Homo sapiens: one gene and its partner. The protein of the gene in region 1 purifies or fractionates together with the protein of each later gene. This does not show direct contact. Each region holds a gene or a part of one and is shown on either strand. Other genes may lie near its edges.

Region 1 (16,050 bases):
TCAATTGTTACATGCTAGTCTCTTAGAAAATAATTTGGATGTTTCCACAAATAAATTTTTAATATTCTAGCATACAAAGCAGATCATAACTTGGTAGATTTTACTTTCCAAGGTTAGACCCAAAGAGGCTCCAAAATCACTGTGTCTACCACTAAGGCTCCCTCAAGCCACTGGTTCTCCAACTGGCTCAGTCATTTGTCCCTTTTACACCAATTCTCCAAGGTTCCAGGGTGGATTCTGGGGTAGAATACTTTTTTATTTTTCCTGAGACAGAGTCTTGCTCTGTCGCCCAGGCTGGAGTGCAATGGCACAATTTCGGTTCACTGCAACCTCCTCCCACACCCTGGGTTTATGTGATTCTCCTACCTCAGCCTCCCGAGTAGTTGGGATTACAGTTGGCTGCCACCACGCCCACCTAATGTTTGTATTTTTAGTAGAGACGGGGTTTCGCCATGTTGGCCAGGCTGGTCTCGAACTCCTGACCTCAGGTGATCCACCCGCCTTGGCCTCCCAAAGTGCGAGGATTACAGGTGTGAGCCACCGCACCCAGCCTAAAATACCTTTTATTTTGGCCAGGCATGGTGGCTCACGCCTGTAATCCCAGCACTTTGGGAGGCCGAGGTGGGAGGATCACCTGAGGTCAGGAGTTCAAGACCAACCTGACCAACATGGAGAAACCTCATCTCTACTAAAAATACAAAATTAGCCGGGCGTGGTGGCGCATGCCTGTAATCCCACCTACTCGGGAGGCTGAGGCAGGAGATTGCTTGAACCTGGAGGCGGAGTTTGCAGTAAGCCGAGATCACGCCATTGCACTCCAGCCTGGGCAATAAGAGTGAAACTCTGTCTCAAAAAAAAAAAAAAAAAAAAAAAGTAAATACTTTTTTCAGTGTTCTACATGTTCAGAGAAACTTCTAGTAATGAACTATACAAATGGTCCCTGAAGGTAGTCTTAGAATACCTTGATACATAGGGATACGTTTAATTCTGTCACATGAACTAAGAACAACTTATATGAGGAAAAACATATGAACTAAAAACAATTTATATGAGGAAAAACATATGTAAATCATGTCTGAATGTAAAAACCACACCGTGGAAAACGTAAGCAAGAAGCCATGTGCTGGCTTGGGTGCTTTGTTAATTGCTCTTTGTTCATGTGTTAATAAGTAGGCACCAATGATTTTAAAAAAGATTAATAAGACAAAAAGTTAACACCGTAAAAAGTCTACATTTCTCTGCATTTGTAGAAACCAACCAAGCACCCACCTCTCAGGCTACCTTGCCAAGCCCCTGGTGTCTGCCAGGAGCATGGTTATGAGAGTCACTGGCCTGGAAAACCACAGATTACAGTCCTAACATCAAGGACTGCAGAAGGCCCACGTTTTTCCTTCAGATCAGATGTAAGCCCCTCTTATTCTGCATCAAAAACCTCATTCTGATGGCTTTGCCACATCTACCAACCTGGCCTGCATGTAGTGTAGGACCTTCCTGAGAGAGGCTGCCACAGTAAAAGCCACTGGTGCAGAGGCTCCCAGGAAACAGAACGTCACCACCGCTGCAGGTGGCTCAGGAGGCCTGCTTTAGGATGACACCATGGAGGGGATCTGTTTCCTTAACAGTGAACTTAAAATATGATAAATCTAATACTGCCCCAAACCCACAACCCCCCTATCCTAACACTGTTGCTGGATTCTTCACATAAATATTTAAATACATAGACTGAAAAAATGAGAGAGGAGAAATTTTCCTAAATGTAAACCTAATTTTTAAGGTATAAGCTAACTTTTTTTTTTTTTTTTGGGGGGAGGGACAGAGTCTTGCTCTGTCGCCCAGACCGGAATGCAGTGGCACGATCTCGGCTCACTGCAACCTCTGCCTCCCGGGTTCAGGTGATTCTCCTGCCTCAGCCTCCCAAGTAGCTGGGATTACAGATGCATGCCACCACGCCTGTCTAATTTTTTGTATTTTTAGTAGAGACAGGGTTTCATGGTGTTAGCCAGGACGGTCTTGATCTCCTGACCTCATGATCCACCCGCCTCGGCCTCCCAAAGTGCTGGGATTACAGGCGTGAGCCACCGCACCCAGCCGGTATAAACTAACTTTTAATTATAATCTGTTCTAGGAAAGACTACTAAGGAAAAAAGTTCTCAATAAATCAGCACCTGCATTTGAGATTTTAAACTAGAAGCTATTTTTTTTTTTTTTGAGATGGAGTCTCGCTCTGTCGCCCAGGCTGGTGTGCAGTGGTACAACCTTGGCTCACTGCAACCTCCGCCTCCCGGGTTCAAGCAATTCTCTGTCTCAGCCTCCCGAGTAGCTGGGATTACAGGTATCCACCACCACGTGTGGCTAATTTTTGTATTTTCAGTAGAGACGGGTTTCACCATCTTGGCCAGGCTGGTCTTGAACTCCTAACCTCGTGATCCACCTGCCTCGGCCTCCCAAAGTGCTGGGATTACAGGCATCAGCCAACTACAAACTGTTTATATTATTTTTCCGAGTTTCAAGCTTTAATCTTTTTTCTGAACTTCCTTGAAAGGGATAGGATGAAATGATAAAGAGGTTTTAATACAAGGCCAAGCCTGGTGGCTCACACCTGTAATGCCAGCACTCTAGGGGGCCAAGACAGGAGGATCACTTGAGCCTAGGAGATCAAGATCAGCTTGGGCAACATAGTAAGACCCGGTCTCTATTTTTAAAAAAGGGAGGGGTGGGGAGGAGGTCCTAATATGATTAAAACACTTATGGTTTAAATCACTAGTTTTCTTAATGAATAATTCTGCATTGACTTCTTTGTAAACATACTTTAGGCAGTATATCAGGGTAACTACAGGGTACCCTCAAACTTTGAGAATTAAATAAAATAAATACCTAATAAATGAGATTCAGTGTGTACAGAAGTCACTGAAAAGATAAAATATTCTCAGAGCAGGAACAGGAAATTCAAGCACTTTATTACAGCCCAATGAGGGGTAATTTATAGAGCGGACGAAAAACCATGTCAGAAGAAAGGATATCGAGAAATGAATAACAGAGGCAGCAAAAGCAGGAGTGGGCATCCCTTGGTGGGTCTGGCTGTTGTCAGACATTTAAGTCCCCCAACTAATCCTCCCACTGATTCCAGGCTCACCCAAAACTGTGTGGTGATAGGTACCACGACTTTCCATGTAGACCTGTCTTCTGGAGGATTAACATTCAATTGGCCAATAAGTCAACAGGAACTTCTGGAACATACAGGAATCTCATTCTCTGACAAAAACTGGCACTTTTGTTTTTGTGAGTTTTGGTAGGTGTGACCTGTCTCCCTAGTTAAGCACAAGTCTAGCACAACTTCAGCTGGAGCTTCCAACCCTTCCAAACCCAAGTAATGAGTAAGTGGGGGGCCTGCCCATGGCCCCCAAAGGCTGGGCTCCCAGGTAACCCCTGAAAGCTGCTGGGTTCCCCGGAAAGGTCGCCTCTCTTGACTGACGGATGGCTCAAAAGTGCAAAAAGAATGTTATTTCATATTTATTCTTTACATTTCTAGAATTTCACTTCCAGAAGGCATGAAAACAAACTTTAAAGCTCCGTTTTGCAATGTGGCAATTCCTCAAAGAGTTAAAAACAGAACTATCATTCGACCCAGCAATCCCATTATTGGGTATACACCCAGAGGAGTATAAATCATTCTACTATAAAGATACATGCATGCAAATGTTCACTGTAGCACTATTCACAATAGTAAAAAGTGGGTCAACCTAAATGCCCATCAATGACAGATTGGATAAAGAAAACGTGGTATATATACACCAAGGAATACTATGAAGCCATAAAAAGAAATGAGATCATGTCTTTTGCGTGAACACGGGTAGAGCTAGAGGCCGTTATCCTTAGCAAACTAATGCAGGAACAGAAAACCAAATACTGCCCTTATAAGTAGGAGCTAAATGATGAGAACTCATGGGCTCAAAGAAGGAAACAATAGGCTCAAGCCTGTAATCCCAGCACTTTGGGAGGCTGAGGCAGGCAAATCACCTGAGGTCAAGAGTTCAAGACCAGCCTAGCCAACATGGTGAAACCCCATCTCTACCAAAAGTACAAAAAAAAATTTAGCCTGGTGTGGTGGTACATGCTACCTGGGAAGCTGAGCAGGAGAACTGCTTGAACCTGGGAGGCAGAGGTTGCAGTGAGCAGATATTGCACCACTGCACTCAAGCCTGGGCAACAGAGCGAGACTTCATCTCAAAAAAAAAAAGAAGGGAAGAACAGACAATGGGGCCTACTTGAGGGTAGAGGGTAGGAGAAGGGAGAGGAGCAGAAGAAATAACTATTCAGTACTAGGCTTAATACCTGGGTGACAAAATAATCTCCACAACAGTTACATAGGTAAACCGTGACATAAGTTTATCTATAGATCAAACCTGCGCATGTACACCCAAGCCTAAAATAAAAATTAAAACAAACAAACAAAAAAGCTGTGCTTGTTTGTGAATGTGAGGTAGCTAAGAGGCCATTTAGCTCCTTTTTTTTTTTTTTGACACTTATCTCCTTTTTTTTTTTTTTTTGACACGAAGTCTCACTCTGTTGCCGAGGTTGGAGTCCAGTGGCATGATCTGAACTCACCACAAACTCTGCCTCCTGGGTTCAAGCGATTCTCTTGCCTCAGCCTCCTGAGTAGCTGGGATTACAGGTGCCCGCCACCATGTCCAGCTAATTTTTGTATTTTTAGTAGAGATGGGGTTTCACCATGTTGTCCAAGCTGGTCTCAAACTCCTGACCTCAGGCGATCCAGCTGCCTCAGCCTCCCAAAGTGCTGGGATTACAGGCATGAGCCACTGTGCCTGGCCTATCTCCATTTTAGTAGATACTTTTCCATACTGTATACGTGAGGAAGGCAACTACTATGACTAAAACCCAAATTATAGTTTAATTAAAATAAATTAAAAATTTGATATTTTTGCCAGGCACGGTGGCTCATGCTTGTAGTCCCAGCACTTTGGGAGGCCAAGGTGGGTGGTTCATCTGAGGTCAGGAGTTCAAGACCAGCCTGGCCAACATGGTAAAACCCCATTTCTACTAAAAATATAAAAATTAGCCAGGTGTGGTGGCACATGCCTGTAATTCCAGCTACTCGGGAGGCTGAGGCATGGGAATTGCTTGAACCTGGGAGGTGGAAGTTGCAGTGAGCTGAGATCACACAACTGCACTCCAGCCCGGGTGACAGAGCAAGACTCTTCCTCAAAAACAAAAAATAAAAATAAAAAATTGATATTTTAACAAACATAAATGGAAAAGAAAAAAAACCCAAATACAGGTACAAAATTTATTCAAAGATTCATTGTAGTTTTCTGCATTTTACTATTATCTACGGCAACCATATACTAGACTTATAATTTTAAAAGTTATCAGGCTGGGTGCGTTGGCTCACGCCTGTAATCCCAACACTTTGGGAGGCCAAGGAGGGTGGACATTTGAGGTCAGGAGTTCGAGACCAGTCTGGCCAACATGGCGAAACCCTGTCTCTACTAAAAATAAAAGTTAGTTGGGCAGGGTGGCGCACGCCTGTAATCCCAGCTACTCGGGAGGCTGAGGCAGGAGAATCGCTTGAACTTGGGAGGCAGAGGTTGTGGTAAGGTGAGATCACACCACTGCACTCCAGCCTGGGTGACTGAGACTCTGTCTCAAAAAAAAAAAGTTATCGGCCAGGCGTGGTGGCTCACACATGTAATCCCAGCGCTATGGGAGGCCGAGACAGGCGGATCATGAGGTCAGGAGATCGAGACCATCCTGGCTAACACGGTGAAACCCCATCTCTACTAAAAATACAAAAAAATTAGCCGGGTGTGGTGGCGGGCACCTGTAGTCCCAGCTACTCGGGAGGCTGAGGCAGGAGAATGGCGTGAACCCAGGAGGCGGAGCTTGCAGTGAGCCGAGATTGCACCACTGCACTCCAGCCTGGGTGACTGAGCGAGACTCCATCTCAAAAAAAAAAAAAAGTTATCACATAGTTGCACAACTTTGTGAATACACTAAAAACCAATGAACTGTATACTTCAAATGGGTGAAATGTATGGTATGTGAATTATCTCAATAAAGCTACTAAAAAACATTATTTAAAAAGAATTCTTCTACATCTAAGGCCTGAGCAGGACTTGCTTTAACGCAACACCCCTGCAGCAGCATAACGTGGTCTATTTATTGCTGGACCAGGAACAGGCAACTCTGGGGAGGGTATGTGCTCATCGAGGCCACGCCATCTGCAGAGGTTCTGTTAAGAGCCTAGGGCTCCCCTTGGGTTAGCCCCCATTGAAGGGCCATTGTCAGTGCCCCCTCCTCAAAGGAGCCTGACTGCTGCTCTCGACTCACGGGGGCTTCCTAAAGGAAGGGCTACTTGTTCCCGATGGAGAGCTCAATGCCATTAGCATTTCTGTATACTTCTTCAAGATTTCGAATGCTACTTACCATTTCTGTGCAGCTTGTTATCACCCAAATGACTGGTTTTGGAGTCAGCGTTAACATTCCAATGCCTTACACACTTGCTGGTTTCCTTATGAAATTCAGTGTTTATGTTCTGCACCCAGTTAACTAATGTATTTGGCTACCTGAGAGTTGAGCATATTCTGTTTTAGTATCTTTTCTCCTACCACAAACCCAAAGGCTGGAATCCTGTATTTTGCTATCACTTCTACTCCTACTTGATTTGATACAATTCTCGAGTTAAAGAAGAAATACCTTTGGTCTCAACAACAAACTTCATAGGAGATCCTTAATCAGTTAAGCTTCTAATAGAAAAGCAGATAGGAACCAGGAGCCAGAAACTTGTCTTAAGACTGAGGCTCATCAGGACTTTACAAGAGAATCACATATTAGTACCATATTTGAGTCTGTCATTTTCTCTAACATTCTTTCCTTACCCCCAGAACAAGTCCACTGATTGTCTTAGACAGAGCAGGGATTTTTTTTTTTTTTTTTTTTTTTGAGACAAAGTTTCGCTCTTGTTGCTCAGGCTGGAGCGCAATGGTGCAATCTTGGCTCACTGCAACCTCCGCCTCCCGGGTTCAAGCGATCCTCCTGCCTCAGCCTCCTGAGTAGCTGGAATTACAGGTGCCTGCCAACATGCCCAGCTAATTTTTATATTTTTAGTAAAGATGGGGTTTCACCATGTTGACCAGGCTGGTCTTGAACTCCTGACCTCAGGTGATCCATCCACCTCAGCCTCCCAAAGTGCTGGGATTACAGGTGTGAGCCACCACGCCCGACCCCAATTTTTTTTTTTTTTAAAGAGAGAGGATCTTCCTAGGTTGCCCAGGCTGGAGTGCAGTGGCTATTCACAGGCATGATCACAGCACATTGCTGCCTTCAAATCCTAGCCTCAAGCGATACTCCAGCCTCAGTCTTCTGAGTAGCTAGGACTACAGGCACACAACACCATGCCTGGCTAATTTATTAAAAATTATTTGTAGCGACAAGGTCTTGCTATGCTGTCCAGGCTGGTCTTGAATTCCTGGCCCCAAGTGATCCTCCTGCTTTGACCTCCCAAAATGTTGGGATTACAGGTGTGAGCCACAGCACCCAGCCTGGAGCAGGAATTTTTAATTCTCAACTTCGCAGATGAGGACACTGAAAGAAGTTAAAGGTCACAGATGCAGGAAGGGGCAGAAGAAGAATGCCACCCCAGCTCCTTTCCACTGCCCCATCCAGCACAGCACTCTGTCCAAATACTGCTGGATCATCAGACCATGAGAGCTGACAAAGGCCAGAGGCCCCCTGCAGCTAGGTCCAGCCTGGGCATTCCCAGCATTCGGAGGGCCAGTCCAGCTACCTCCTTCCACTTCCTGTTTCCTTGCTAATGGAAAAGAAAGGATGCTCCTCCTTGCTTTCTAAAGTCCCAGGAGTTCTGAGGTTTAAAAACTTGGTTCAAAGAAAATAAAATACTCTGCACAGCAGGTACTTCTGCTGGAAACTAGATGGTCACTTCCCCTTTTTTTTCTTTCTTTTTTTTTTTTTTTGAGACAGGGTCTTGCTCTGTTGCCCAGGTTGGAGTGCATGGTGATCTTGGCTCACTGCAACCTCTGCCTCTCTGGTTCAAGTGATTCTCTGTGCCTCAGACTCCCAAGTACCTGGAACTACAGGTCTGTGCCACCATGCCCGGCTAATTTTTTTTTTTTATGTTTAGTAGAGATGGGGTTTCACCATGTTGGCCAGGCTGGTCTCCCTACCTCAAGTGATCTGCACACCTCAGGCTCCCAAAGTGTTGCGATTACAGGCATGAGCCACCGCGACCAGTCAGTAACTTTTCATTGTTCCAATTAACTAAGAGGCTTAAAGAACTTAAAAGCTCATTTTTTATAGGACTGATGCTTATCTCAGAAACTGTTAAACTTATGATGAGGGTGGCAGCTATATTCTTATTATTTTTTCCCCCAAAAAGGATTAAAAATAAAATCAATAGTGTTGGTTGTGACAATTATGATGTACTTATAAACTTTTCTTTAAAACATTTGTGAATCTGTACACTTCTCAACAGGACACACTGAAACTGCCTGTTTTATGTTCCCTATACAGTAGCAATGCTCAGGAGTAGTCTGCTTTAATTAGGCCTCAAGGAGTTGAGACCGCCTGCCCTGAACCCCAATGAGCCTGTGGAGCACACCACAGACTTTCTAGTGCTGGTTTGTGTGAGCAAGTGCTTACCTCAGTAAGGCCTTTAATCTTCAAGTACCCACAAAGGTAAGAGTTCCCCGTGTCCACGTGCTGAAAAGAAAGGATACACAGCCTGTCACAAATAGATAAACTTACTAGGGGACATGCAGGAGGGTACTCTGCAAATCCTGTGAGGCCAGACTGGTGGTCAGTGAACACCCAGGGCAGTCCAAGGCTCACCCAGTCTCTGGAATCTTGATAAGTTCTCCCCACACACATGCCTGTTCTGCCAAAGCAAACTGATCCCAAGACCCTCTCAACTTTCTTCAGCTGAATATCATGAGACTGAAGTGTCTTTCTGAAATGGGGTGCCCACTCAAATTCATTTTCTGTACTATCTTCAACACACGTCTCCCGGTCATCTAGAGACCTTGAGCATTGCTGGGCACAGGGCCTCTGTCTCTGCCTGTACACGTGGTGTCATCCCTAACCTCAGGCTTGACTTTCTTTCTAATGTCTTTCAAGCCTTTTTCTATTTCTGTATTGCTCAATCATTGGTCTAGGAGGTCTGCTCCTCTTCTAGTTTTTACACTAAACATCATCCTGCATTATCTCTTTATGAAATGGGCAGACTGTTCAGAAATGGCATCTTATAAAGATTTATGTGGTATAAACTTCAGTTATGAACCAAAATGCCAACCAAAAGTCTGACTATATTGTGAATGTTCACTCTGTGCATTTTATATATGGATGCTGTGTTTCTTAATGAAAAGAGTCAGGAGCCTAAAATAAATAGAAATAACAGGCATAGTAGACTTTGAGGTTTAGCAGTCACCAATTACTGGTTGCTGAGACACTGCCGGATGCCTACCCAACAAACAATTTCCTCCTTTTTCACGCTGGCAGGGTCCAGTTTTTGCTCTGGTACCTACCTACCACGTAAGACTTGGTCAACCTGATGGATCTAAGGCACACAGGTGTCCCTATCCCCTTGCAAGTCATGTATTTAGGGGTGAGTGACCCATTTCTGGCTCATCAGATGTGTAAGTCTCCTGAGTGCATCTGTGAAAAATCCCTGGCTTTTGAAGAGGCGCATGAGGAAGAAATGGCTTTTTTGTCCCCTAGTGGTGACAGTATCCGCATGGAGTGTCCAGTCCTGGGGGAGACATCTAGACCACAGGGGAGAAACAGGCCAGGAAATGCTGAGGATGGTAGTTAGAAAGATGGAAAAAACTGGGCCCATCGTAGGCCTCTGAATTAACCAACCTGAAGCCACGTCACCTCAAAAATCCTCCTGATGTGAGATTTCACCCAAATCTATACAGACTCATTCTGAATAGGGAGTTTCAGATTTCATGACAATTGGATTCACTTACAAGGTAAATCCTTGAATTAAAGCAAACCAAGTACAAGGGTACCTGTGGTACACTGAGATTTTAATGTTAAGTGAGGTCTTATTTCAAGAAATTAGAATAGTTTTGTGGCATTTATCAGATTTGTGAACCTGATTACTTCCAATTATACCATAAATCAAATACTAAGCCATGCTTAAAAACTGTAATGAACTTAGTCAACCAGATGATGTCAGCACCAAAGCAAATGAACTTCAATGAAGCCAAAGTGCCTTCACAGTTTGGTGCTGGTGACAAAGGTATTCCCTGTGAAAACTGCCAAAGCATTTTAAATATCCTCATCTGCTGACCTTGGCACTGGACATTATCTAAAACAGCTAATCCACGCTAACATGGTTCAGCAAAGAACTTTTATTAAAGGACACATAATTCTAACCTGAGTCTTTAAATTTCATGTATGCAATTCTCATTGAATTCAATATAGTTTGGAGTTTCACAGCTGCTGAAAAGTGTATCAGGTGGCAAGGATACTTGCTAATAAGATTAAAAATTGAAATGTAAATTGGCTAACATTTTGCATGGATTATCACATGCTCAAGAATCAGAATTTCAGCTTGGCCTCCATTCAACCAAGCGTCTCTCTACTCTGCCCAAATTGATCTTGATAATGGTTGGTGAACTCAAATACACCACAACGCATACAGCTTTTACCAAACGGCAGGCGAGCATCTCAAGAAAGATAACAGGGCACGTGTTTAGCAAGAAGGTGTCACAGCACAGCTGTGTCCAACGGCTGTTCTTTTAAATATTCCTTTCACAGCGACCAGGGCTCCCTTCTACTGCTGGCTTCTTAGATGGCAGAGGAGGAAAGAGGAGTCACAGTAAGTGCGGGGTGGAGAGGAGACCCAGTCAGAAACTCACAAAGGTTTGAGGAACTCTTTACACTAGAATCACAGAAAAGAAAGTACTCCAAAACAACAACAACAACAAAAACACAAGAAAAGATGCACAACAGCACAGTCATTATAGAAATTCAAATCAAGACTACAGTGAGAGACCACTTCAAAAACACTAGGATGGCTACAACAAAAAAGATGAACAGTGAGTGTTGGCGGGGATGTGGAGAAACTGGAACCCTCACCCACTGCTGGTGGAAATGTAAAACAATGCAGGGCCAGTTTCTCAAAATGTTAAAACCCAGTTACCATGTGACCCAGCAATTGCACTCCCAGGTAGTTATCTACCAAAGTGAAATATACATCCACATAAAAACTTGTACATAAATGTTCATAGCAGTATTATTCATAGTAGCCAGAAGTGGAAACAACCCAAATGTCCATCAACTGATCACTGTATAAACAAAATGTTGTATATCCATTCAATGGACAATTGTTACAATGAACAATGCAAAATAAAAAGGAATATAAGTGCTGATACATATTACCATATGGATGAACCTTGAGGACATTATGCTAAGTGAAGGAAGCCAATCTCAAAAGGACAAATACTATGTGATTATATGAAATGTCCAGAATAGACAAACAACAACAAAAATAGATGAGCAGTTGCCTAGGATTGGAGTGGGGGTTATGGCTAAGGGTTACATACAAGGTTTCCTTTTGGGGTGATGAAAATATTCTAAAATTAGGTTGTGGTGGTGGTTAAACAACTGTGAATATACTAAAAACTATTGAATTGTACACCTTAAATAAGTGAATTCTATCTAAATAAAGATACAAAAAGAAAGAAAGAAAACAAAACAAAACAAACAAAAAGAAGCTGAGTTATAAAAGGCAGAAGTATTTTAAGTCTAAGAAGGCTGTGTCTGACAAACTAGTCCTGGCTGAAAAACCAGATGATGGGGCAATTCACATGCCACTGACTAGTCGTGATGATGACCAAGCAGCTCACCAATCCAGATGTAGGGCAGCATTCATTGGCATGACCACCACCCCCACCATCAGACATCTTACTCAAGTGGCTCCCAGCCATCCACCAGGTTTCTGCTCTGGGCTGCCTGAGACCTATCAGCCCTGCCCCAACTCAACCACTGCTTCCCCTGGTTCATGATTCTCCTTCTGAAAGGAGCTCAGAAGTGATACCCTAATGACAGAAGGGAGCAGCAGTTGCTGCAGTAGCCAAAGCAGACTCCCCTTTGACGCCTGGCTATCTTGCCAATTGTCCCCTACTACATCAGAAACCATCAAACTGAACAACAGGGACAAATCCAAGATCATCCCAAACGTGACCCACCCAGGGATCTCACCTCCAGAATTCTATGACTAGGTGCAAAACAAACCGAAAAACCCCTGTACCTTCATACTCGACTCTCACATTTTAAGAAGAGGATCACTACATTAGGCATACAGTTATGAAGACAAAAATATTTCAGCCACAATCGTATTTCCATTATAATAACTATCGTGGCTCATGATAGAACTTTACAGCCCAAAGATATGATTAACATGACGATGCTGTTTCAAGTAAGCAGAGAAAATGATTTATTCCCACAAAGCAGTATGAGAATAAAAGAGTGATGAGTGCTCCGCAGTTAGCAGAAAGAAAAGGCACCCTCATTGTCTTTTGGATGGGAGACCTACTCTTCAGAAGTGAAACTAAGATTTGTTTTAAATGACCAAAAGGAGAGCTTGAGGAATAAATATACTGTACATTCCACCCTCACACCCCGGGGGGTGGGGCGGGGGGGAGGCAGTGGGGCAGCACACAGTGCCTTTCAGAGGGACAGGTGTTTGGAGGGGCTTCTGGGAACAGCCTGGCAGATGAGGTGTCAGACTAAGGAAAAAAAGGGCAAAGGGAAGGGGAAAGGGGTCCTTAGTCAGGCAGGGGTAGGTATAGAGGAGGAAGAGTTTTGTGGGGAGGGGAGATAAAAGAGTATTCACCACTGCCACTCCATTTCAGCTGGCAAAAAGTGTCAAGCCTGAGAGGAGTGAGGTGTGGGAAAGGCCCAGACAAGTGAAGCTGTACTTCCGAAGCTGATCAGGGACTGGCAGCAGGTATTCAGGAATCCAGGTCAAATGGGGGGAGGCGACTGGACATGAACTAAAATTGGGTGAGTTAGATTTCCCAGTACATGGGTACCAGAGACTAAGAGGAAGCCCTGTGCCTGTGTAGAGAAAAGTTAAGAACAGGAAAGAGGGTCCCCTGGAACCAGGATCGAGCAAGACGAAGGTATGGGGTGGGGAAGTCTGGATAGAGGCCAGGAAGACTGGGAAAAGACTGCAAATGGTCCCAGAGCAGGGGCAGGAGGCCTGGGGGTGGAGAAGCTGGAAGGAGCTGGGTGCCTGGACCATGAAGAGACAGAAGCAGTGAGTGGAACAGGGGACCCAGGAGGCAACATCCCAACAGACTGTGAGCAGCACTCAGGGAGTGAGTGCCTGGTCTTGAGGTGAGGCCAGGGCCTGACCAATCAGTTGCGGGTTAGGTGCTCCCCCGTCTGGGGGTCTGATGAAGCCCTCCTAAGGAGATCTCAGGAGGAGGAAGACCCCAAGGTCTGCGGATTCCTGGAACTGAGGAAGGGGCAGGAGGACATGTCTCAGGTCTGAGAGAATCTGACGTGGGCCCAGACATGGGGAGGGTCCCAAGTCTGGTGAAACCAATGGAGAGTTCTTCAGGGTCTGAAAAGGGCTGGTGGCAGTCCCTGATCTAGGGACGACAGGTCATGGGGAGGAAGGACCCAGGCCTTCTCCGAGTCATGAGGGGCTTCCGGATCCCAGACGGGCCGGTCACGGGCTTCAAGTCTGGGAGTGTTCGGGGTCCGCCAGGAGCCGGTCACGACGGGCTCTGGGTCCGAAGGGGCAGGTCAGGGCTGGGGCTCGGAGAGTGTGAGACACAGGCTGGGAAGGTCCCGGGTGGGAAGCGCCGGGTGCAGGAGGCCCCGGCGGCGAGGGCCTGTTCCGCGGCTGCGGGGTCGAGGAGCCGAAGCGGGCACGGCCCGTGAGCGCCGCGAGGAGGCCCTCGGGCCCCGGCCCGGCCCGGCGCTCACCTGCAGCACCACCTCTACGTCGTACGAGTTCCCCTTGCTCTTCTGGTGGCCGCGGAACTTGGAGCCGCTGTAGAGCAGGCTGGTGGCCACGCCGGGCTGCTGGGTGTTGATGGGCGGCGGCGGGATGAGTGAGGCCGCGGAGGCAGCGGAGGCACCGGCCGGCGGGGGACACTCGGTGCGGACCGGCATCGCGGGGTCCCCCGGAGCCAGGGCTGGGGGGAGTGGGAGAGGAACCGCCGCCGCCGCGCGGGAGCCGAGGAGGGTGGCGGGGAGGGAGAGGCCGGGGCGCGCACGCGCGGGGTGGGGGCGGGAGGGGCGACCACCCGCCCGCTGCCTGCGGAGCAAGCGCTCCGGCCGCCACCGGGACCCAGGGACCTGCGAGCAGGGCCTCCCAGTCCTGAGCTGGGTCCCCCTCCCGACTTGCCCTCGCGCACACATACACACACACAGACACTCACAGACACACAACACACAAACACACACAGACACACACACACCCCGCCCCTTCCGATTGGCTCAGGCGAGCCTGGGGGGCGGGAGCAGGCTCAGGCGGCGCTTCCGCCCATTGGCGGGAGGAGAAAACACGTGGCGCGGTGCGCGAGCGGCCCGCTGGGACTTGTAGTCTCCTCGCCGAGGCGCGGCGTGGAGGGGGCGGGGCGAGGTGCGTTTGTGATGCTGATTGACTGGGGGTGTGCGCAGGAGGCGCGCGGCGGCGACGGCGCGCCGTAGGTGTCATGCGGAAGATGGCGGCGTCCAAGGGAGGTTGAGGGCTCTGAGGAGGCGTTGAGAGGTTTCCGTACAGCCCGACCGTGCGGCTTTGGGGATCCCATCGCTCTGTGTTTCCTGCTCCAGGTTTCGCGTCTCGCATCTTCCCAGACCCTCGGGCGCGATGTGGAGGAGCTGCCTCCGGCTGCGGGACGGGGGACGCCGTCTCCTGAATCGGCCGGCGGGTGGCCCCAGCGCTTCTATGAGTCCGGGGCCAACCATCCCGTCTCCAGCCCGGGCTTACGCCCCGCCGACAGGTAAGACCATGACATGTTCTTTTGGGTTGGGGCCGAGCTGGGGTAAGGTGGGCTTCGGGCTTCGGCTGTGCAAAGCGAAGTAACTGAGGCAGGGTTCAGGCTCATGAGGTTATGCAGGCCAGTCAGGTCTTTTTACAGATGAGAAAGTGAAGCCCAGACAAGGGCAGACGACCCGAGAGGGAACAGCGAGTCACGCACGATACAGTAATTGATATTTGGCCTGTGCAGGTTTTCTCAAAGCTTATGGCTGCCCTCCCTTTAATAAGGAAAGCAGGTGTCATCTTTGTTTTCAAAAGGGGAAGTTTGGGCTCTGAATCAGGACTTCGTCTGGGTTACAGGCAGACTCTCTCAGAGGTTTGTGGTGTCTGTCTGACTGTTTTCCGTGTCTCCACTGCCCAACACAAGACCTGCCCAGAAGGGACCTAGAACCTGGGCCTTCATTCCTCCATCCCGGGCACTTCTGCTGCAGGTTTCCTGACTTTCCCTCCTACCACAACCTCTGCCATCTGCAGCCTTCTCTCCTAAATAGAAATTGACACCTCCACCTCTGACTGTGGAGTCACCTCCACCTCCAACTCTGATGAAGCTTAGAAGTAGTGGCTCTTTCATTGCTGATGGTGAGTGGTGTCAGGGTAAGAGTGAGAATGACTCATTTCAGTGAATGAAGAGCAGTAACACCCTCCCACCATTCAATTAGTTTTATTGTGCTGGAGGCAGGAGGCACGGTTGTCTTTAAGACCCACCTGTATGTATTGGTAGAGAAGCTCAATTAAAGAAGAAAAAGGCCCACCTGAATGATGTTCACTGTTCATTGCAAAAGGTTATAATATTCTGATTAAATTGTGGTTTATAATATCCTGATAAGGGACATACAAAGAAACTGTGAGAACACAGAGAATCGCTTACTCCCATCTTGGGGATGTTCAGGGTTTAGAATGGGTCTTGGGTGAAAGGGCGTTTGTTTAAGCTGAGCCATGATAGATGAGTAGGAGTTCAGCAAAAAGGTGGGAGAGTGTTGGGTATCTAGAACGTGTCCAGGGTGACAGCA
Region 2 (16,050 bases), on another chromosome or scaffold:
GGACAGCCTTGTTAATGTAACTACAAAATAATCTAAAACAAATATAAAATATTTAAACAGTCAGAGGGAAAAAGATTATATTAAAAAATGGCAGTTGAAAATGATAGCACACCTCTCAACAGCAACAAGGAAGCTGGTTAATAACAGTCGAATGATATTCAAAATGTATTTCAAGAAAGTAAGTGTCAATCTGGAATTCTACATCTAGCAAAAATACCCTCCTATAAAGGAGACAAAATTTTCAGGCCATCAATTCTGAGAGAGTTGAGCTGCATTATAGAAGAAATTCTAAAGGATGGGCTTACGGCACAGGGAATGAACACAATCCTAGACATAAGATTAAAGACGCAAACAATAATGAAGAGAAAAAAAACCCAGTAAATATTTGGGTAAAATTAATGAACAATTGCTGTATAAGACAAATATTTTATAGGGTCTTTGAACATGGTATCAAAATAAATGACAACAATAGAGCAATTGACAACAATAGAATAATGAATTAGAAGGTGAGAATATGAAGCTGAAAGTCTACTAAATCCTCACATGGGAAGAGAGAAAAGGCACTGATCAATTTTGTTAAGGTAATCATGCATACTTGCAATTTCTAAACTAATCATAAGTCAAATGATTTATTAATAAAATAAAATTTTCTTTATTTAAATAAAATTTATAGGAGATATTTCTCTTAAGAGGGATAAAGGTTGAAAATAAAAGATGGAAAAGATATGCCATACAAATAAGAAATGAAAACAGATCTTAATACAATTTACCTTAAAGCAAAAATATTTCTAGAGATAAAAAGGCACTTCATAATAAAAGATTTAATTCAAAATAATTTAAAATTTGTTTTCAATTAAAAACATGGCATCAAAATGTATAAAGTAAAATTGGACCAACTATAGGAAACATATAATTCGATGATCATAGTGGAAAGTGTTAACATCTTTCTCAGTAATGAGAATCAGACAGAAAATTCTTATTGATAAAGATTTGTGCAATATGATTAGCAACTCTGACCAACTGAACAAATATACAACACTGCTCCAACAACTAAAGAATTCACATTCTGTTCAAATATATATGATATGTTTATAAAAATTGAATAAGCTGGGTTATATAGCAAGTCTCATTAAATTTCAAAGGACTGGAAACATACAGGATATGCACTCTGGCCCCTATGCAATTATGCCAGAAATCACTAACAAAGAAAACAAGTAGTAAATCGCCACAAATTTGTAAATTAAAAACCACAGTTCTTCCAAAGAGCCATTTCATTTCATAATGAAAATACTAAACTGAACAAAAATAAAAATACTTCATAGCACAACTAAAGAACAAGAGGAGGAAATTTTATATATTTAAATGTATATAAGGGAAATTTTCAAAGTCTGAAAACTAATGAGCTAAGCATCTGGCTTAAAAAGTTGTTATAAAAAGACAGCAAATTAATCTCAAAAAGAGAAGGAAGACAACAGTAAACAGAGCATAAGTCAAGGACACAGGAAATAACAGAAAAGATGAACAAACCAAAAATTGGTTCTCTCAAGAGACTAGTGCACTTGATAAACATGTGCTGATGGAAAAATATATATATATTCAAGATAAGTAACAAAAAAGGGGCATCTCAAGAAATCCTGCAGAAAAGATGAACAAACCAAAAATTGGTTCTCTCAAGAGACTAGTGCACTTGATAAACATGTGCTGATGGAAAAATATATATATATTCAAGATAAGTAACAAAAAAGGGGCATCTCAAGAAATCCTGCAAACACTAAACAAACAGTAAGATATTAGGTATACCTTAATACCCATAAATTTGAAATTTTTGATTATAGACAATTATAGACAATTCCTAGAAAAATATCATTTAATAAACCTGAACCAAACAATTAACAACTCTGATTAGTCCTATGATGTTTAAAGAAATTAAACTGATAGGTAAAAAACACTCCCACCCACCAAATTTCAAGCACAGACAGCTTCAGACACTGGAAAGTGTTTGTTTGTTTGTTTGTTTGTTTTAACCAAGTATAAAATAAAGAAGTAATTCGGCTGAGGGTGGCGGCTCACAACTGTAATTCTAGCACTTTGGGAGGCCAAGGCAGGTGGATCACTTGAGCCCAGGAGTTTGAGACCAGCCTGGGCAATACAGCAAAACCCCATCTCTACAAAAAATTAACCGGGTGTAGTGGCGCACACCTGTAGTCCCTGCTACCTGGGAGGCTTGGTAAGAGGATCACTTGAGCCCAGGGAGGTCAAGGCTGTAGTGAGCCGTGACTGTGCCACTGCACTCCAGCCTGGGCAACAGAGAGAGACCCTGTCTCAAAAAAAAAGAAAAGAAAAGAAAAAGAGAAAACAAACAAATAGCTCACACCCGAAATTCCAGTGCTTTGGGATCATTTGAGCAAGGAGTTAAAGACCAGTCTGGGTAACATGGCGAGACCCCATCTCCACATTTTTAAAAATTAGCCAGGCATGATACCATGCACCAATAGTCCAGGCTACTCAGGAGGCAGGAGGATAGCCTGAGCCCAGGAGTTCAAGGCTAAAGTTAACTGATCATGCCACTGTACTCCAGTCTGGGTGACAAAGAGAGACCCTGCCAAAAGAACACAAAAACCTCCACACAAAGGTAACTTCAGGTCCAGTTGCCTTCACTAGTAAATTCTACCAAGCTACTACTCATTCTACACAAACACTTTTAGATTCCTGCCCCATTCTATAAGACTGGAAGTACCCAAACATACCAAAAGATAACAAAACAAGACATGCACATTAAAAGAAAACTGCAGACCAATATCTTACATACACAAATATATGCAAAAATACTTCATAAAAAGGTGGCAGATCAAATACAATACCTGAAAAGAGTAAGACACCATTATCAAGTAGGGTTTGTAAAAAGGAATACAAAATTGCATTAAAAACAGAAAATCAATTAAGATAATTCAACATACATATGCCTTTATAATGCTTTGCTTGACCACGCTTCACAGATACTGTGTTTTTTACAAATTGAAGGAAGTCTATGGATGCCGTTTTTCCAACAGAATTTCTTCACTTGTGTCTCTCTCTCATTTCAGTAATTCTCGTAATGTTTCAACCTTTTTCATTACTGTCATATCTGTTACAGTGACCTATGATCAGTGATCTTTGATGTTAATAATGTAATTGTTTTGAGGCACCATGTTGTGTGTGTTCTGACTTCTCCATAAACCAGCAGTTCCCCCATTTCTCTCCCTCTCTTTGGGCCTCCCTATTCCCTGAGATGCAACAATACTGAAATTAGGCCATTTAATATCTTTACCACGGCCTTTAAGTGTTCAACACAAACCTCTCACTTTAAATAAAAAAACTAGAAATAATTAAACTTAGGGAGGAAGGCATGTCAAAGGCCAAGATAGGCTGAAAGTTGACCTCTTGCACTAAAGTTGACCAAGTTGTAAATGAGAAGGAAAAGTTCTTGAAGGAAATTACAAGTGAACCCATGACTGATAAGAAAGCAAAACAGACTTATTGTTAATATGGAGAAAGTTAGAGCGGTCTGGATAGATTAAACCAGTCATAACACTCCCTTAAGCCAAAACCTAATCTAAAGCATGGCCTTAACTCTCTTCAAGTGTGTGAAAGCTGAGAGAAGTCAGAAAACTGCAAAAGAAAAGTTGGAAGCTAGCAGAGGTTGGTTCATGAAGTTTAAAGAAAGAAGCCACCTCTGTAACATAAAAGTGCAAAGTAAAGCCACAAGTGTTGATGTATTATAGAAGATGCAGCAAGTTATTAATATCTAGAAGATCTTGCTAAGATCACTGATGAAGGTAACTATACTAAACAGATTTTCAATGTAGACAAAACATTCCAATAGACTTCTATTGGAAGAAGGTGCCATCTAGGACTTTCATAGCTAGAGTGAAGTCAATGCCTGGCTTCAAAGCTTTAAAGGATAGTGTGACTGTCTTGCAAGGGTTTAATGCAGCTAGTGACTTTAAGCGGAAGTCAATGCTCATTTACTATTCTGAAAAATCCTAGGGCCCTTAAGAATTAAGCTGAATCTACTGCCTGTGCTCTACAAATGGAGTAACAAAGCCTAGATGACAGCACATCTGTGTACAGAATGGTTTACTGAATATTTTATGCCCACTGTTGAGACCTACTGCTCAGAAAAAGAAAAAAAGATTTCTTTCAAAATATTACTGCTCACTGACAATGCACCTGTCACCCAAGAGCTTGATGGAGAAACACAGGAATATTAATGTTTTCATGCCTACTAACACATATCCATTTTGTAGCCTATGAATCAAGGAGTCATTTAGACTTTCAAGAAAATCTTATTATTTAAGAAACACATCTTGTAAGGCTATAGTTGCCACAGACAGTGATTCCTCTGATGGATCTGGGCAAAGTAAATTGAAAACCTTCTGGAAAGGATTCACCATTCTAGATGCCATTAAGAACATTCATGATTCATGGGAAGAGATCAAAATATCAACATAAACAAGAGTTTGGAAGAAGTTGATTCCAATGCTCATGGATGATGTGGAAAGTGTTAAAGGCTTCAGAAGAAGAAATTAACTGCAGATGTGGTAGAAATAGCAAGAGAACTAGAATTAGAAGTAGAGCCTGAAGATGTGACTGAACTGCTACACTCTCATGATAAAACTTGAATGGATGAGAAATTGCTTCTTATGAATGAGCAAATAAAGTGGTTTCTTGAGATGGAAACTGCTCCTGATGAAGATGCTGTGAACATTGTTGAAATGACAACAAAGGATTTAGAATATTACATAAACTTAGCTGATAAAGCAGCAGCAGGGTTTGAGAGGATTGACTCCAATTTTGAAAGAAGTTCTATTGTGGGTCAAATGCAATCAGACAGCATTGCACACCACAGATAAATCTTTTGTGAAAGGAAGAACTCATTGATGCAGCAAATTTCATTTTTGTCTTATTTTAAGAAACTGTCACAGCCACCCCAACTTTCAGCAATCACCATCCTTATCAGCCAGCAGCCATCAATACTGAGGCAAGACCCTTCACTAGCAAAAAGAGTATAACTCACTGAAGGCTCAGATGATCATTAGCATTTTTTAAGCAATAAAGCATTTTTTAAGTTAAGGTATATGCATTTTTTTTAAAGAAATAATGCCACTGTACCTTAAGAGGCTACAGTAAAGTGGAAAGATAACTTTTATATGCACATGCAAAGGAAATAAAATTTGTGACTTGCTTTATTGTGTCATTCACTTCACTGCAGTGGTCTGGAACCAAACCTGCAATATCTCCAAGATATGCCTATAATTAACAACTACTGCACAATCCAAAAAACCAGAGTGGAGAGATTATTTTTTAAACCAGGAAAACAGAAAAAAGAAAGAAGCAGGGAAAGACAAAGGGAGAAAGGTAGAGATTTCAGGTTGAAACTTTATGACTACCTTATTAAACTTTATCCTTCCCTTATCTCACAAAAGAAAATTTTTCTTTCTATAGCAAATAAGATAAGCTCAGCAAAGGGTGGATTTCAGTACAATCTCTACATGTCTGAGTAAAACATTCCTGTCCCTAGGTGATTACTTTTGCCTATCATCACTGGATCCTGCATGGGCAAAGAGGTAGTAGCAATTATTGGTTCCAAAATCACCTCTAATAAAATGAAATGTAAATACAGTGATGTTTCTAGACAAACAAAAAGCCTATTACAGAAATAAATAGAGCCTTACACTTTCTTAAAATACAGAAAATACTTAAAGATCATACTAAGTAATATACTAAAAATACTAAAAGTAGCTTTTGTATCCTCCATTACAAGAAGCTTGACAGAGACTCTTTTGATTCCCTAGATCTTCCTATTTAGCAGGCAGGAACTTCTTGTCCTTCTCTGCTATGTTTTTAATAGAGCAGAAGCCAAAAAACTCTGCACTGTTTACTTCCTTATTTGTCCAACAAATCATCATCAATGAGATCAGAAGCAAAGAGAACAACCCTGAAAGGAATGTTTATTAACTAACAGTGTTCCAGGCCAGTTTAGAAAGCCCATAGTATTCACAGTACAAAAACTATGATGTGGCTGTAAGTTTCAAGAATTGAGCAACTACTAATTTCTCTAAACTTGGTTCCTTTCTAGAGCCAAAGGATAAGTTAAGTCTCTGTAGATATCAAAACTGCACAAGATTTTTATCAGCTAATCTTAACCAACTGAGTACGTCACTAAAGAGACCTTTAAAATATAACTGTTTTTAGCTTATTAACTGTAGAGTTGCCTGTGGCTGTTGTTTTGCTTTCCCTTCACAAAATGGTATCAAATGCCTTACTGATAAATATCTGAAACAAACAAAAAAGCCCTAAAATTACCTATGCCTCCCTCATCTTATGAGGTTAAAAAAAACCCACAGAATTCACTCCTAGAAATGGCATATATATATATATATATATATTTTTTTTTTATTGGTAGCATTTTAAAGTCTGTTAAGAGATTAGTTATTTGTTTGTTTATACTCCAAAATATACTCAATTTCAAACATACCTATCATTTATTTGCAAGTATCATCATCAATCAAGTAAGCAATAACAATGCACAAGGCTTAGAAGCAGATTTGTCATATTTCAAAAAGTGGAGCTCAAAGCAATTCATTTTAAGTTAACTTTAAATTTATAAACTCAAGGCAGTACAAGTCTGGTTTTTTTTTAGCTACCCAATATCTGATAAATATGAATACCTAATAATAGACGATAATAACAGTGATAAAATTAAAATGAGAGCAAACCACTGAATAATCTATTATTTCTTATTTCTTCCTATAAAGGATGCACCAAATTCAATTCCACAAGTTTTATATTGTGCAACTATTCTGTTGTTTGTCACTATGAAAGTTACTGAGGAAGATTAAAAAAAAAAGTCATACTATAAGCAACAACAGAGTCCCTTTTTAGTTTAAATAACAAAACACATCAGACCTTAAAAATCCAAATGAGTGTTACCCTCCAAAGCCAATACCCTGGGAGATAATACAGATGTTCAACTATTCACATTTCTTTCAAAGCCAGACTACAGGTCACACAAGAAAATCAGCAATTATATAGCATTCACACCACAAGGAAGTTGTTTTCAATACAAATCTCCTTGTTCCTTATATATAATTGTTTACTAATAACATTTTTTATTATCTAGCCCCCCTTCTCCTCAAAACTACACTGTTAATGAATATTGGCTACCAATATCAAAATATTATTTCTGATACAGTTTAATGCTAGTTAATCATTTGTAAGTGCATGGTTTCCCAAGATGACAACTTAAATTTATATGTGAGTTCAAGTACATTTCAATTTTTTAAGTCTCATTACATCATGGATCTATTTTACATGAAAGAAGTCCCTAATCCAAAGAGATAACAATCTTTAACCGAGTAAAAAACCAAGAAAAAAAATTACAGTAATAACTGGCATAAGCCTATATTATTTTTGAGAAAAAGTTTCCCGTATGTACTTGAATTTACCCTAATAACCAATCTAAGTTTCATACCATTTACAGCCTTTTCAATCAACTCTTCGCAAGCATCAAAATCACCCTTCAACACCAGCTTGTCATGAATATCTGTTAACATGGGATGTTCCAGTGCAATCTTGGTTTTCTTTTGCAGTGACTCAAAAGCTTCTGTATAGTTGTGTTGTCTGAAGTGTTTTAGGCAAAGGCGAATAGCTTCCTGTTCACGGTACTACTAGAACACAGAGTAAGTATGGAAAGAAGAGATTTGGTTAGATGATACTGTAGGAAACAATAACAACAGTAAAAATAACTAATCTACACTGAGCATTTATTAACACTATGTGCCAAGCAGTTTACTAACCTGATTCATTAGGTATCATTATTTGGCTCTTTTAACTAGCAAAACTAAAGCTTGGCCTGTTCCAATAACTTGCTCAAGGTCACAAAATATGTAGCCAAAAGTTATTAAACCAAACCTAATTCCAGAGCCTCAACTTTGAAGAAAGGGAGAACATCTATTTCTTAAACTCCACTTAATACTGTAAAAATTATAACTCCATAGCATCTATTAATCCCATTACAATGCAGGTACTGAGAGCACAAAAGAACATTAAATAATCCACATAAATTATATTATGCTATTTTTGGTTTTTAAAAATAAACTATTACTTGAATGACAAGTATCAAGTATACAGATATTTCAAATTTACAAACACATTTTATGACTCAAAAATCATCAAAAAGAGACATTTAATCTTTTTTTTTTTCTTTCTTTTTTTGAGACAGGGTCTTGCTCTGTCTCCCAGGCTGGACTGTAGCGGCATAATCTCAGCTCACTGCAACCTCCGCCTCCCAGGTTCAAGCAATTCTGCCTCAGCCTCCTAAGTAGCTGAGCTTACAGGCACGCGCTACCACGCCCAGCTAATTTTTGTATTTTTAGTAGAGTCGGGGTTTCACCATGTTGGTCAGGATGGTCTTGAACTCCTGACCTCAGGCAATCTGCCCACTTTGGTCTCCCAAAGTGCTGGGATTACAGGTGTGAGCCACTGCGCCCGGCCCAATTTAATTGTTTTCTAAGCCTGAACTACCTCATCTATTAAGCAGCTATAAAGTAGACATCTCAATTAACTGGAATCCAAAAAGCAGGCACTTAATTTATTAAAATTTTCCCCTAATAGGATAGATGCCAAAAATACAATCTTATAAAAAGGATTTTTTTAAAAAAATCTCAACTTCAGGAATATGTTCTGGGACTACCTCAAACTTCCTAAGTATACCACTATTCAAACAAACAGATGACATGGAAGCCTGCATGATAATCAAACAACAATGATTTACTTATAGGCATGACCCTTTAATAAGGCAAGAAAATAATGTGTTTAGGAAGATGTATAAGATTTGAAACAAATCAGTTGATAGCTGACTTAACTAATAAAAGGTCATTAAACACCTAATCCTTACACGTTATAATTAACTATAATTAATTAACAACTTAATTATAATTAGTTAACTATAATTAACTTACTCTTGGCCTCTAAAAAAGACTTATCATAACTACCATGTAACAATATATATTACAGTTATATTAAACAGCAGTATTTTTTAACCCTGTTGACTACTTTAGGAGTCTAAATCACATCCACATCTTAAATTTTCCATTAGGCTGCAAAACTATCCCACTAAAAACTATGTTTTAAGTATTTATATGAATACAAGTGAAAAAACAAAATTCAGAGTCAAATGGGTATAATAACATAAAAGCAGACTGTGGAGCCAAACTGCCTGAATTCATATACTGGCTCAAACACTTTACAATTGTGTGATCCTAGGCAAACTATTTAATCTCTCTGTTCTTCATTTCTTCATCTATAAACTAATGGGGATAATAAGTGCACCTGTCTCATAGAGTGATAATGACTAAGTGAGTTATCAGGATTCCTTAAAAGCTGGCAGACTGGAAGTGCTTAATAAAATGTTAGCTAACTGTTGTTATTATTATTTTGAATATTTTAAATTATTCTCAATGAAGATAAGAGATTGACATATTTCTCCTTTTATAGGCATTAAAGTCAGGATTTAAAACACAGTCCTACCTTGCTATACCAGTTGAGACAAGGTTGTACTATATCAGGATCATCAATGCCACTAAGTTCAACATACCAGATGCTAAAGTTAAAGCTGGGTCCCCAGGACAAGAGTGGAACTTTAAGGAGAAAAAACAAAAAGAAGAAGAAAAATATTAACACAGTTCAAATAAAACTTTAGCAAAGTAAAAGCACTATTCAACCTTATAAGGATTCATTCAACGAATTTTCTGGGCATCTTTTATATGACTAGCATGGTGCTAAGGCTACAACAGTAAAACGAAACAGATGACCCATGCCACCATAAGATTTCCTTAGTTAATAAAAACACTGTAAGATAAATTAAAAATGTGCACATGTCTACCCCCAAATAAATGCCACCAGAATTAGATGATTTAACAGGTAAATTTTATCAAATGTACAAGCAGCAAAAAATTACTTTAGAATTTAGTCTACATCAGAACACTGAAAGAGACTGAAATTATTTATCAGTGGCACAACCCTGAAATCCAAATCAGAAGAAAAAAGACTTAAGGCCAATCACAGCTATGAATACATATTTAAATACAAATTAAAAGGAGAAAAGTTGCAAAAAATTCTATCAGATTTTCATTGTAACCAAACAGATCTCATTCCAGGAATGGAAAGATGATGGTTCAATAAATAATAGGAGCTATATTAATATAATCTACCACGTTAACAAAATAAAAGAAAAAACACATTTGATGACTTAAATACATTATTATTTTTAAACCCTCAATATATAAGCAATATAAGGCAATAAAAAATTTCCTTAGATTTTTTTAAAAAGCATCAAAAACCTTAAAAATTAAACCTACTGGGAAAATACTAAATATTCCCACTCAAGTCAGAACAAGACAAAGATGTCCAATATCTCTACTATTTGTCACTAATTAGAGGTCTCAACCAGTGCAATAAGGAAACAAACAAACAAATTAAGAAAAACGAATTGTAATTTAAAGATGACCTGTCTACCTAAAAAAATTCAAGAGAGCCAGGAGCAGTAGCTCAAGCCTGTAATCCCAGCACTTTGGGAGGCCGTGGCAAGAGGATCACTTGAGGCCAGGAATTCAAAACCAGCCTGGCAAACACAGTGAAACTCTGTCTCCACTAAAAATAGAAAAAATAGCCAGTCATGGTGGCGTGCGCCTATAATCCCAGCTACTTGGGAGGCTGTGGCAAGAGAATCACTTGAACCCAGGAGGTGGAGGTTGCAGTGAGCTGCCATGACACCACTGTACTCCAGCCTGGGCGACAGAATAAGACTGTGTCTCAGTGGAAAAAAATATATATATATATTCAATTGAAAAACTTTTTATTTGTAAACAAGGTAAACACACAAAAATCAACTTTTCCTATACCTACAATAACCAATTAGAAAATATACCTCAAAAAAGTCCTATTTATAATGGCAAAAAGCTGAAAATACTTCAGAATAAACTTAAAATACGCAATATTTATAAGAAAATATAAAATTTTAGTGAATAATTGAATAAATGAAAGAACATACTATGTTCCTATATAGGAAAACTCAATATTGTAAATGTGTAGCTCTCTCCAATTAATTATAAATTTAACATCATGTCAATCAAAATCCCAATGGTCTTTCCAGAGGTCCCACGTAGTCAAAACTACTTTTTTTTTTAATAACAACACTAGTTATTTTTCAAAACAACTATTTTTCAAAATAACATAATAAACACTTTTCTAGCCTTTTAATAATAGCAACATTGCACTAATGGTACAAAAGCAATGGTGTGTAAAACTGCTAGCACCTTGGTACCAAACTAATGGCACCAAAAAGTACTATTAGTGCTCAGTAAGTACAAGGTGCACTGTATGCCTCACCACCATACACTGGCAGTAAAATAAAATAAAATAAAATAAAATAAAATAAAATAAAATAAAATAAAAATAATTTTTACCAATGGCACAGAAAAATTAATTTTATTAAATTCCCATCAAGTACACATCTGTCTAGTATCCTGTGTGACAAAATGAGATTTGCATATAAAGCATTTTTGTTGTGTACCAAACCACAATGGTTATCTCAAGGAAAGGACCTGTACAATTATTTAAGTTGTGAGTTTAAAAATCAATTTATTTTTCATGGAATGCCATTTTATTCTTGAAAGAAAAACAGACAACCTATGATTATTCAGATTTGGGTATTTGCCAAACATTTACATGTTATTTCAAGGAAAATACTTAACGATATTTGCTGTCAAGGATAAAAACCAAGCTTTCAAGAGAAAAATTAGAATTTTGGAAGATAAGTACCCACCACTGTGAGCTTAACTGATTCCCAACACTTAGATTTTTTTAAATGAGATTAGATGTGATATTAATAAATGTGATTTTTAAAATATTACATAATGAAGTGTTTCAACATTTGGGAGATCTGTGTAATTCAGTGAACCATATTTTCTAAATAACCAATGAATGTTACAAAATCACACCTGGGTAAAAAGTCCAAGACAGACCACTGGGTAAAAAGTCCAAGATAGACCAGTGAATTTTAATGTAACAACAGATTCACTGATGCAGTTTCAGAATCAATAATGCAACTATCTTTAAGAAACTAACATTTGTAGAGTTTTGATGAAGCATCAAAATAGAATATCCAGAATAGCTGATACCAGGCGTAATGATTTCCAATATCCGACTGAATAAGGAAAATGTATGGGGTATGATACTTTTATATATTTTTGTCATCTAAAACAGGGGTCCCAAACCCCCAGGCCCAAACCTGTACAGGTCCCTGGCCTGTTAGGAACCCAGACGCATGGCAGGAGGTGCGCAGTGTGTTAAGGGAGCATTACTGCCTGGGCTCTGCCTCCTGTCAGATCAGCGTTGGCATTAGATTCTCAAAGGACTGCAAACTCTATCATGAACTGCAAATACAAGGGATCTAAGTTGTGCACTCCTTATGAGAATCTAATGCTTGATGATCTGAGATGGAAAAGTTTCATCCCAAAACCATCTCTCCACCATACCCTGCCCCAACTTCTGGGTCCACAGAAAAACTGTCTTCCACAAAACTGGTCGCTGGTGTCAAAAAGGTTGGGGACCACTGATATAAAGGAAGCTGTGTGAATAAAAACACAGGCAGTAGCAACCAGCCATAAGGATGTATGAAGGAATGCTGGGATATTTAATATGCCTTTCTGTTTATGTATGTAAACAACACACATTTCAAAAAGTTTTTTTTTAACAACAAATATTAAATTATCTTTATTGTTTTAGTGTTTCTTTATGTAGCAGTGTCATTTAAAAGTTTATCTACTAAATCACATAGCAATAACCATCTAGTAGTATAAGAGTCAGAATAAAATAATGATTCTAAACTAAAAGCACCAAGAATATAGTCTATATATGTCACCAGACATAAAATATTAGAGATTTCCAGGTCCAAGTCTCATTAAGAATTCATTTATTGGTCCTGGTGCAGTGGCTCATGTCTGTAATCCCAACACTTTGGGAGGCAGAAGCAAGAGGATCATTTGAGCCCAGGAGTTCAAGACCAGCCTGGAAATATAGTGAGACCCTATCTCTACAAAAAAAAATTAAAAATCAGCTGGGCATGATAGTATGTGCCTGTAGTCCTGGCTACTTGGGAGGCCAGATGAAGGATCACTTGAGCCCAGGAGTTCAGTGTTACAGTGAGCTATGACCACACTACTAAATTCTAGCCTAGGTAACCGAGAAAGACCCTGTCTCTTAAAAAACAAAACAAAACAAAACAAAACAAAAACCTTTTAAAACACTTGCAGTGAAATTTAATCTGTTACCCAATGGTCCAATAGAAATATTTCTAGAATAAAATTAGTTATAATTTTTAATACCTTTAAAGAATACCTTTAGAGGAAGGAGGTAAATCATGAAGTTATCTTGCCAATGGGCATATATATTACAGATGAATAAACAATATAATTAATTTTCAACAGACTAAAAGGGTATGTAAAAAATGAGCAGAATGATGTCCACTCACTTCAAACGCCAGTGATTTTTGGTAGCATTAACAATACTAATAATGCATATTAGAACACTAAGAAATCTAAAAGTGAATTAAAGCTCCAGGCACGTGTTCTTTGTTCCCTGATAAAAGATGCCTCCCTCATCAAATAAAAGAATTAGAAACTCCTAATACATATCCCAAGGCTAGCAGTTTGTATTCTAGGATTCAGTCATCAGTTTTCCCCATTGGACAATCAGACATGAATATAATCAACATCCCTGTGTCACCTTTTTTCATAAAATGGCCAGCCTGGGCAAGACAGCAAGACTCAGTTTCTACAAAAAAATTGTTTTTAAAATTAGCCAGGTGTGGTGGTGTGCTACTAGGGAGGCTGAGGCCGGAACATGGCTTGAGCCCAGGAACTGGAGGTTGCACTGAGCTCTAATTGTGCCACCTGAGCAACAGAGCAAGACTCTGCCTCTTAAAAAAAAAAAAAAAATTAGGCCAGGCGCAGTGGCTCACGCCTGTAATCCCAGCACTTTGGGAGGCCAAGGCGGGTGGATCGCCTCAGGTCGGGAGTTCAAGACCAGTCTGACCAACATGGAGAAACCCCGTCTCTACTAAAAATACAAAATTAGCCGGGCATGGTGGCGCATGCCTGTAATCACGGCTACTTAGGAGGCTGAGGCAGGAGAATCGCTTGAACCCAGGAGGCAGGAAGTTGTGGTGAGCCGAGATTGTGCCATTGCACTCCAGCCTAGGCAACAAGAGTGAAACTCCACCTCCCAAAAAAAAAAAAAAAAAGAGGTTCTGAGAGATCCTAAAAATTCAAGATTAACTATTCTGAAAGAGTGCATCTACTATTCTACTACAGATTTAATGACATAAGTATACTTAGCACAGTAACTGGCACATACTAAGTGTTCAATAAATGTTAGCTGTTATTATCTATTATTATTATATTAATTTTCCTCTTAATAGTATACTTCTAAAATGTCACTTTTCCACATGCTCTCCTAAAGGGCTTCCTGGAACTAATACCCAGACTTCATGCTCAGATTTCATGCTGCATCCAGCCAGAGTTAAAGCCGCTCTCTGAAGTCTCCACAATCATCCAGGCTGCAGCTGACTCCTTTACAAAAATCCACATCTCTCCATTTACCAAAAACCAAGACTCCCCCTGAATCCTTCCAAGACCCTGTACCTCTTTTTGCCCTCACCTACCCCTGATTTCCTCATACAGCTGTTATTGTGGCTATAAATCAGAATGTAAACCCTTTGAGCCATCTGTAACCAATACCCTCAACCCATTTTATGTTTACTTTCCTCTGATCTAATCTCCTGCTGAGCTTTCCCTTCCCAAACTTTAACTTGCCCTCTGGAATCCAGTCTCCCAATTAATAACTCACCTCTGTTACTAAATTTTCCTTTCACCTCTAGGTCTTATCTAAAACCAAGCTTCTTTCTAAGGCCAACTGTCCTTCTACACTAAGTCCCATCAAAGTCCCTAGAATACTACATGTAAGAAGGCATGTAAACACAAACTTTAAAAATATAAGTACGAAAATGTGCAAAAGAGATATCCAAAATGCAATCATTTCTTCCATAAATGTACTCTTAAATTAAAACCACAGATCCACAAACTGGAACAGAATTCAAGAAAATATCCAATATAGCTACCTATCCTACCATTAGACAGAAAAAGCATTAACATCCTCATTTTATACAAAAGGTAACTTAAGAAAGGAAAGTAAAACTTTCCTGAAGGAAGGCAGTCCAATGACATCAGTTCAGCTTTACTGGTACTCTGAATTATCCACAACAGATCTTAAAAGTTAACCCCTGCCACACAGTAGAAATGTGGGCTATTTTCCTTGTTAACAATTTATGACCAAACTTACTTCAATTTGCTTAATAAGCTACATTCATTATAAATGAAAATTATTATAGTTACATGTCAATAAACAATTTGGAGATTATCTGCCATTGTGTTAGCCTTGCTTCTGTTCCCCTCCATTACTGTGAATAATTGAAGGCTGACTAAATTGAGAAATTTTGCTGTTTAAGCATTAACTTGTTTTTTAAATAAAGCAAGATCTTTCAAACATGTCACTATAGAACACAGATGTAAAATACTCAAAGGCTTTTTTTAAGTCAAATTCTAACGATTTACCTAAATGAAATAAACGTCTGTGCTAAACTAACATCAAAAGAGAGCTATACATCATTCAAGTCCTTTACTGGAATAACTTTTGAAGAAAATATGACAAACTAAAAATATGACCTAACATACGGCCTTTTAGTTCCATATTTTCCTTATATTACTTAAAAAAAAAAGTTCTTAAGAGAATGCTTGGGAAAGGGTTGGGAAGCAAATACACTGCTGACCGGTATTAACATATTTTAAGAGAAAAGTAAGACATACTAAGTTATCTATATATTAATATCCTAAATAGAAAATGGGCTAATAAGTGTCTACTATTATTTGGAAAGCTCCAATTAACATTTTG

The links.
Region 2: the proteins of GID4 (region 1) and MKLN1 purify together in Homo sapiens (affinity purification with western blotting; 2 studies listed by BioGRID and IntAct, with this or other methods). This does not show direct contact.

The regions. Positions count from the first base shown.
Region 1 is NC_000017.11:18,037,833-18,053,882, reverse strand, and holds the start of GID4 (glucose-induced degradation protein 4 homolog), read right to left. Parts: upstream 14,476-16,050; 5' UTR 14,419-14,475; coding exon 13,981-14,418; intron 8,737-13,980; coding exon 8,677-8,736; intron 1-8,676. Other genes in the region: ATPAF2 (ATP synthase mitochondrial F1 complex assembly factor 2), read left to right, coding at 14,870-15,002.
Region 2 is NC_000007.14:131,390,897-131,406,946, reverse strand, and holds part of MKLN1 (muskelin), read right to left. Parts: intron 9,681-16,050; coding exon 9,571-9,680; intron 7,710-9,570; exon of another isoform or gene 7,707-7,709; coding exon 7,514-7,706; intron 1-7,513. UniProt on the Homo sapiens protein: Component of the CTLH E3 ubiquitin-protein ligase complex that selectively accepts ubiquitin from UBE2H and mediates ubiquitination and subsequent proteasomal degradation of the transcription factor HBP1.